Regions from separate parts of the Homo sapiens genome. Here region 2 is linked to region 1. Evidence: fine-mapped expression QTL. Tissue or cell type: whole blood. Region 1 holds a variant in brackets; the other region holds the start of a gene. All regions are shown on one strand. Distances are between the middles of the regions. Region 1 has its middle 300 kb from the start of NOCT. Region 2 holds the start of MGARP (mitochondria localized glutamic acid rich protein).

Evidence for each region. PIP is the estimated chance that this variant, and not a neighbour inherited with it, causes the effect.
Region 2: MGARP starts here. The variant in region 1 is the best candidate, but not a certain one, in a credible set for the expression of MGARP in whole blood (TOPMed, PIP 0.89).

The regions. Positions count from the first base shown.
Region 1 is chr4:138,709,332-138,712,240 of GRCh38, forward strand. No RefSeq gene overlaps it. Among named protein-coding and RNA genes, the nearest start is that of NOCT, 300 kb to the right of the region's middle. The variant C/A (reference allele first, on the strand shown) is at 1,459.
Region 2 is chr4:139,278,677-139,281,585 of GRCh38, forward strand. MGARP (mitochondria localized glutamic acid rich protein) reads right to left here and starts at 1,549. Exons shown (of 4, transcript NM_032623.4): 1 at 1,401-1,549. The coding sequence starts at 1,482. RefSeq lists an enhancer at 1,304-1,513.

The DNA of each region.
Region 1 (2,909 bases):
CCCTTACCCTCATCTCTAAGCAATGATCAAGCTGTGGCAGCTCCAGGTTCCACACAGCCGGAGCCTATCCACTTCTCTCCACCCACAATGCCACTCTCTAATTCAGAACTCCATCACTTCTCACCCAGCTAGCTGCAATGTCCTCCCAACTGGTCTTCCTGCTTCCAACCTAGTCTCTCTTTACTGCAGCCAAGGTGATCCTTCTTAAAAGCAAATCACATTAAAGTCCTCCTTTTAATGTCTTTCTATATTTCCCCCTCTCTCCTGAGATAAATTTCCAAGTCCTTAACAAGATTCACAAGGCCCTTCATTGTCTCTCTCTCTCTCTCTCCAGTCTCATCAATTGAAACTCTCATTGTCTCTGCCAGCATTCTGAACTTCTCAGGTTTCCTTGAGAACATCCTGCTTCCTCTCATCACTAGACCTTTGCCTATGCTCTTCCCTAATTATTTTCCAGTTCCCTTAGGCCAGCTAACTCTTCCCTGTCCTTCACTCGCCATCTTAGATATTATCTCCTCCAGGAATCCGTCTCTGCCTGCCCCAATCCTGACTAGATGTCCCCCTTATCCTCCTGTAGCCCCCGGTACCTTCCCCATCACAGCACTTAACACAACTTAGTAACTGCCTGTTTTCTGCTTGGTATTCTACTTTCTCTGCAAAGAGTAGAGACGCCTGCAAGCCAGACCAAGCAGAGAGAGATTTATTGTAAGGATGCAGAGGGCCTCACAGACACATGAGAAAATGAGCTTCATAGGAGCAGGAACATAAAAGCCATCAGAAATGAAGGCCCTTCTTTCCATCTCCCCCCTCAGAGACCTAAGGTCACAGCATCATTGTGCCTGCCTGCTCATCACTCCATCCTTCCCTCTCTCTCCCTCTCTCTCTCTCTGCCGGATTTCCCTACTTCTGCTTAATCCACAGGCTATCCCAGCCTCCATTACATTACCCAGCTCTCGAGGTCACCTTTTATCTTTTGCCTCTGGTGCTAACAGGTACGACGTCTCAGCTTCCCGATTCCAAGTTCCTGAAGGATGAGTTTGCTTGGTCTCTCTGATCTCGTGGTGCTGCACCACTTGTGTCTTGTTTCCTGGCCAGCCTAAGAATGGCTGCCTTGACTCAGGTCTAATCAGCTTTACACAAGAAAGGTGGGGTTTTGGTACAGAACACAGCTGTGCTCACTGATATGGTTTGGCTGTGTCCCCACCTGAATTTATCTCGAATTGTAATCTGAATTGTAATCCCCACGTGTCAGGGGAGGGACCTGGTGGGATGTGATTGGATCATGGGGGCGGTTTCCTCCATGCTGTTCTTGTTTCTTGTGATAGTGAGTGAGTTCTCATGAGATCTGATGGTTTTATAAGTGGTGGTTTCACTCTCCCCCTCCCTCTCTACCTGCCACCTACCACCATGTAAGATGTGCCTGTTTCCCCTTCCACCATGATTGTAAGTTTCCTGAGG[C/A]CTCGCCAGCTATGTGGAACTGAGTCAATTAAACCTCTTTTCTTTATAAATTACCCATTCTCAGGTAGTTCTTTATAGTAGTGTGAAAACAGACTAATACACACACTTAGCAGAGATTTGGGGTAGAGCCATAAACAATAGGAGCCTCTGAGACACTGGGAGACACTGCAACACTTAATCTCCTAGCGGGTAACCAAGACTTTCATTGTTAACATACTATTGCCTAGCAAAAAGTCAGGCACAGGGAAATGTGTTGAGCAATGGCTGAACCAACATTTATCAGAACTCTCTATTCTAGAAGACCCATTTGGAGATCTTTTTTTCAGTCAGACCAGGCAGGGTAAGCAAGTTCTTGATCCCCACACAACAAGAAGATAGCTGATTTTTTCTTAAAGAGAGTTGCCCAGATAATAAATGTTTTCTGACTTTTCACTTCACTTAGAGTCAAACCTACCACTTAGCTGATAACAGCTCCTAGCTGCTTTAACCAAAACAGCAATAATCTTTTGTAGCTTCAGCCTGCTTGTTTGACCTCTCCTTAAAATAATTGCTGAATTGGGCTTTAAAAGTCTAGAAGGAAATCAGATAAAAAGTATAAACAGGATTAATGCAATATTTTACATCAATGAAATAATAACTGCCTCAAGATCCTGCCCAATTTGGAGTTCACCTCTAGACTCAGCAGATCCATAAGCCACAGAGTCCACAGGAAACCAAGCATAGTTTCTGACTTAGGGCGGTATGAAAGGCTCTATCTTAAGTCAGATCTTTTTAGTACAATCCAGGTTTTCTCTACTTATTGTGATTTGAGATCTCTCTCTCTCTCTTTCCCTCCCTCTCTCTCTCCCCAGTATTTGTCTTTCAGTATTCAAGACCAGCCATCTATTTTATTTCCAAAACTTGTTTGCAACTAAAGAAGAAAGCCTTAATGAATGGATACACTCATTTGTAAATAATAATAATAATAATACTTAGAGGTCTGTTGACCTACAAACGACTAAAAATAGAGTTCACAGGAACTAAAAGCGAGATTACCATGCTCCAGTGTTGGTCAGTTCTCACCAACCAGCCATGCTCCCTTTGTCTTTAAGGCCCTGACATTGAAGACTGAAGAATATCAGATTATTCCTCAGACTAGCATCAGCATCACTCAAGGAACTTGATGAACATGCGTATTTCTGGAGCCTACCTCACTGATTGAAACAGAATCTCCAAGAGTGAGGAAAGGCTGGAGTGCAGTGGTATGATCTCAGCTCACTACAACCTCAACCTCCTGGGCTCAGGTGGTCCTTCCACCTCAGTCTCCCGGGTAGCTGGGACTGCAGGCACATGCCACCATGCCCAGCTAATTTTTGGTAATTTTTGTAGAGACAGGGTTTTGCCATGCTTCCCAGGCTGATCTCAAACTCCTGGGCTCAAGTCATCAGGAAATAAATTTTTAATGAGCACTT
Region 2 (2,909 bases), 570 kb after region 1:
AATCTTTCTCCCCGTTCTCAACAGAACAGTCCCGTTATCTTCCGAAGTTTAAAATAAATGGCTTCTCCCTACTTCATCAGTGTATATATATATTTAAAAGCTCTATATCATTTGGTATAAAGATCTAGAAAAATAAAGGCAATAAAGATCTAGGAAAACGAAGATGTCTTATTTCTGATACTTGAGGGATAACTTCCTTCCACCAGCATTTTACAAGAAAAATAAAGCGAGTTAGTTAGACCTCCGTCCTTCCCTCCCACCACCACCAACAGAGGCCTAATCAACGTGAAAAAAAAATCGGCCCATGGAATTCTCCGCGCACATCTTTCTCTCCTGCTGGAATCCACCCTCTGGGGTAAAATTATCTCGGAAGGCTCAGAAAGTGAGGCTAAGTGAAGAGAGCATTAAGAACCCTTCACGATATTGTCTAAGAGCCGTCCCCCAGTCGTGAGTGGAAGAGAGAGGGGTGACGGATGGGGACTAGGGAAAAGCGGCTGGGGCAGAACCGCCCTGGAGCGCAAGCCTGGTCCCAGAAGAAAAACAATCTTCCTTGCTCACACCTATTAAGCACCTACTATGTTCCCAGCACTATACGAAGCGCTTTCCTATATGTCCGTTTTTATTTAATAAGCCTCCAGTTCACACTGCAACTCCCCCTTTAGTTAATTGCTGAGTATTCTGCTTTTTCTCGCGTATCCTCAGAACCAAAGGTGTCGATATTTGGACTACAGAGCCAAGCAGTTGCAGGACGACGTGCAACCTCAAAGGAAAGTGTCCCGAAGGCCGCTTCCTTTTTGGGGGTTGTGGATCTCAGAGCCAGGCGCTCGCGGGGTTCAGGCTGCTGAGACCCTGCCAAGGGTTAGGTTTATTTACCCCACGAACATTCGCCCAGCGTCCACTGAGCGGGCCCTGCCTCACTGCCTCCCAGCGCTTGCCGGGCCCGCTCGCTGATCGGCGTCCACCTTCCCACCGTTCCTCTGCTTCCTCAGGAGATTGGAGAGCGAATGGTGCCTCTAACAATAAAAGTGGTAAGCTGCGACTTTGTCAGCCAGGCACGTTTTTAAGTGCTTTTAACCATACATTAACTCATTAAAAAGGAAAACCATCATCGCCCTCATTTTATAGATGAGGAAACAGGTTAAGCCATTTGTCCAAGATCAGGATGCGAACCCAGATAATCTGGACTCTGAGGCACCCTGGAAAAGTTCCCTACTTCCAAAGTCTGCAGGAGCTTCGGGACGTCTTCCCGGGAGTCTCCCCCAGTCTCCTCGACCTCCAATCCAGGCTTCTGCTGCTCTGGGTCGGGTTTGGCCAACTGGGTGCCGGCCGGTTCCCTGGCGCGGGCGAAATCTGCACCCGAGGCGCCCGTCCTCCTCTCCGGGCTAGACCTCCTTACTCACCGTCCTTTCCGAGCGGCGCGGGGTTGGGGGGCGCCCTCAGCGGCAGCGCCAGAGTCTTGGAGACCGCCCTGCGGAGATACATCGCGCCCGCTGTCCGCCGCGCAGCAGCCTCGGTACCCAGGCGCAGGCTGCCCTTCCACAGAGAGGCTGAGAGCCTGGCAGCGCCCCGCCCGGAGGAGGCACGTCGACCTTCATCCAGCCCCGCCTCCGCGGCCCCCGGGAGGTGGGGAGACCTTTGTAGTCCTCACCATCCTCCCCTAACCCATCTCCAGCTCTGTTGCTATCCCTGAGGTCTCTAGAGCTGACCGCGGCATCTCAGAAAAGGGATGGGGAACCTACAAGTCGCCGTCGCCTGCCTGGCTCATTCTGTACCACTGAATGTAACTCCTCACAGCAAGCTGGAAATGTTTTGGGAATTGGACGAGATTAAGACAAGGACACAGTTTATCACGCTGGATGTAATCTGAAACCATTTTATCTCCTGCATTCCGTTAGCTTTCCTAGGAGAGGGAAGGATAGCTGGAAGTTTCTTAAAAATGAGAAGAGCGAAGGGGTAGCCTCAGCCTTCCATTAGCGCACTGGGTGATGCTCAGAATCGTAAGAAAATCTGCAGACAATGGTTGAATTTCTAGACAGCTCACTGTTAAAACGACTTTAAAATATCAAAAACACTGTATATTCCTCTATGGGATGTGAAATTAATATTTCCACATCAGCGGCCGGGCACAGTGGCTCACGTTTATAATCCCAGCACTTTGGGAGGCCGAGGCAGGCGGATCACTTGAGGTCAGGAGTTGGAGAGCAGCCTGGGCAACATGGTGAAACCCCGTTTCTACTAAAAATACAAAAAATTAGCCGGGAGTGGTGGCGCGGGCCTGTAATCCCAGCTACTCGGGACGCTAAGGCAGGAGAATCGCTTGAACCCGGGAGGCGGAGGTCGCAGTGAGCCGAGATCATGCCACTACATTCAAGCCTGGGTGACAGAGCAAGACCCTGTCTCAAAAGCAAAACAAAACAAAACAAAAACCCCAAAAACAAAACAAAACAAACAAAACAAAAAAACACATCAACTAAAAATACTAAATTATTAGTTTTCCGTCTCATCGTGGCTACAAGAACTTGTCATGGTTTGAATATGGAAACCAATAATTTATTACGTTTATAACATTGTCTAAATGATTACTCTTTGGAAGACACCATTTCCTACTATAATAATCCCTTATGTGTGTTTGGCACTTGAAAGATTATAAAGCACTTTCACATCTATTATCTCTTTTAATTTTCACTGCAACCCTCTGAGGGAGGTGGCAATTATTCCCTTTAGCAAATGCCACCACCAGGTGGTGGGTGGGAATGTCCAGGGATTTACTGGTGGTCATGAATTAAAAAACAAAAAGGACATGAACATAATACTTCTAGCTTAAAGTTCTATTGGCATGTAACAGGCACAATATTTGTTCATTTGCTATGTAAATAGACGTTTCTCAGAAGTTATAGTCCTGAACCTAA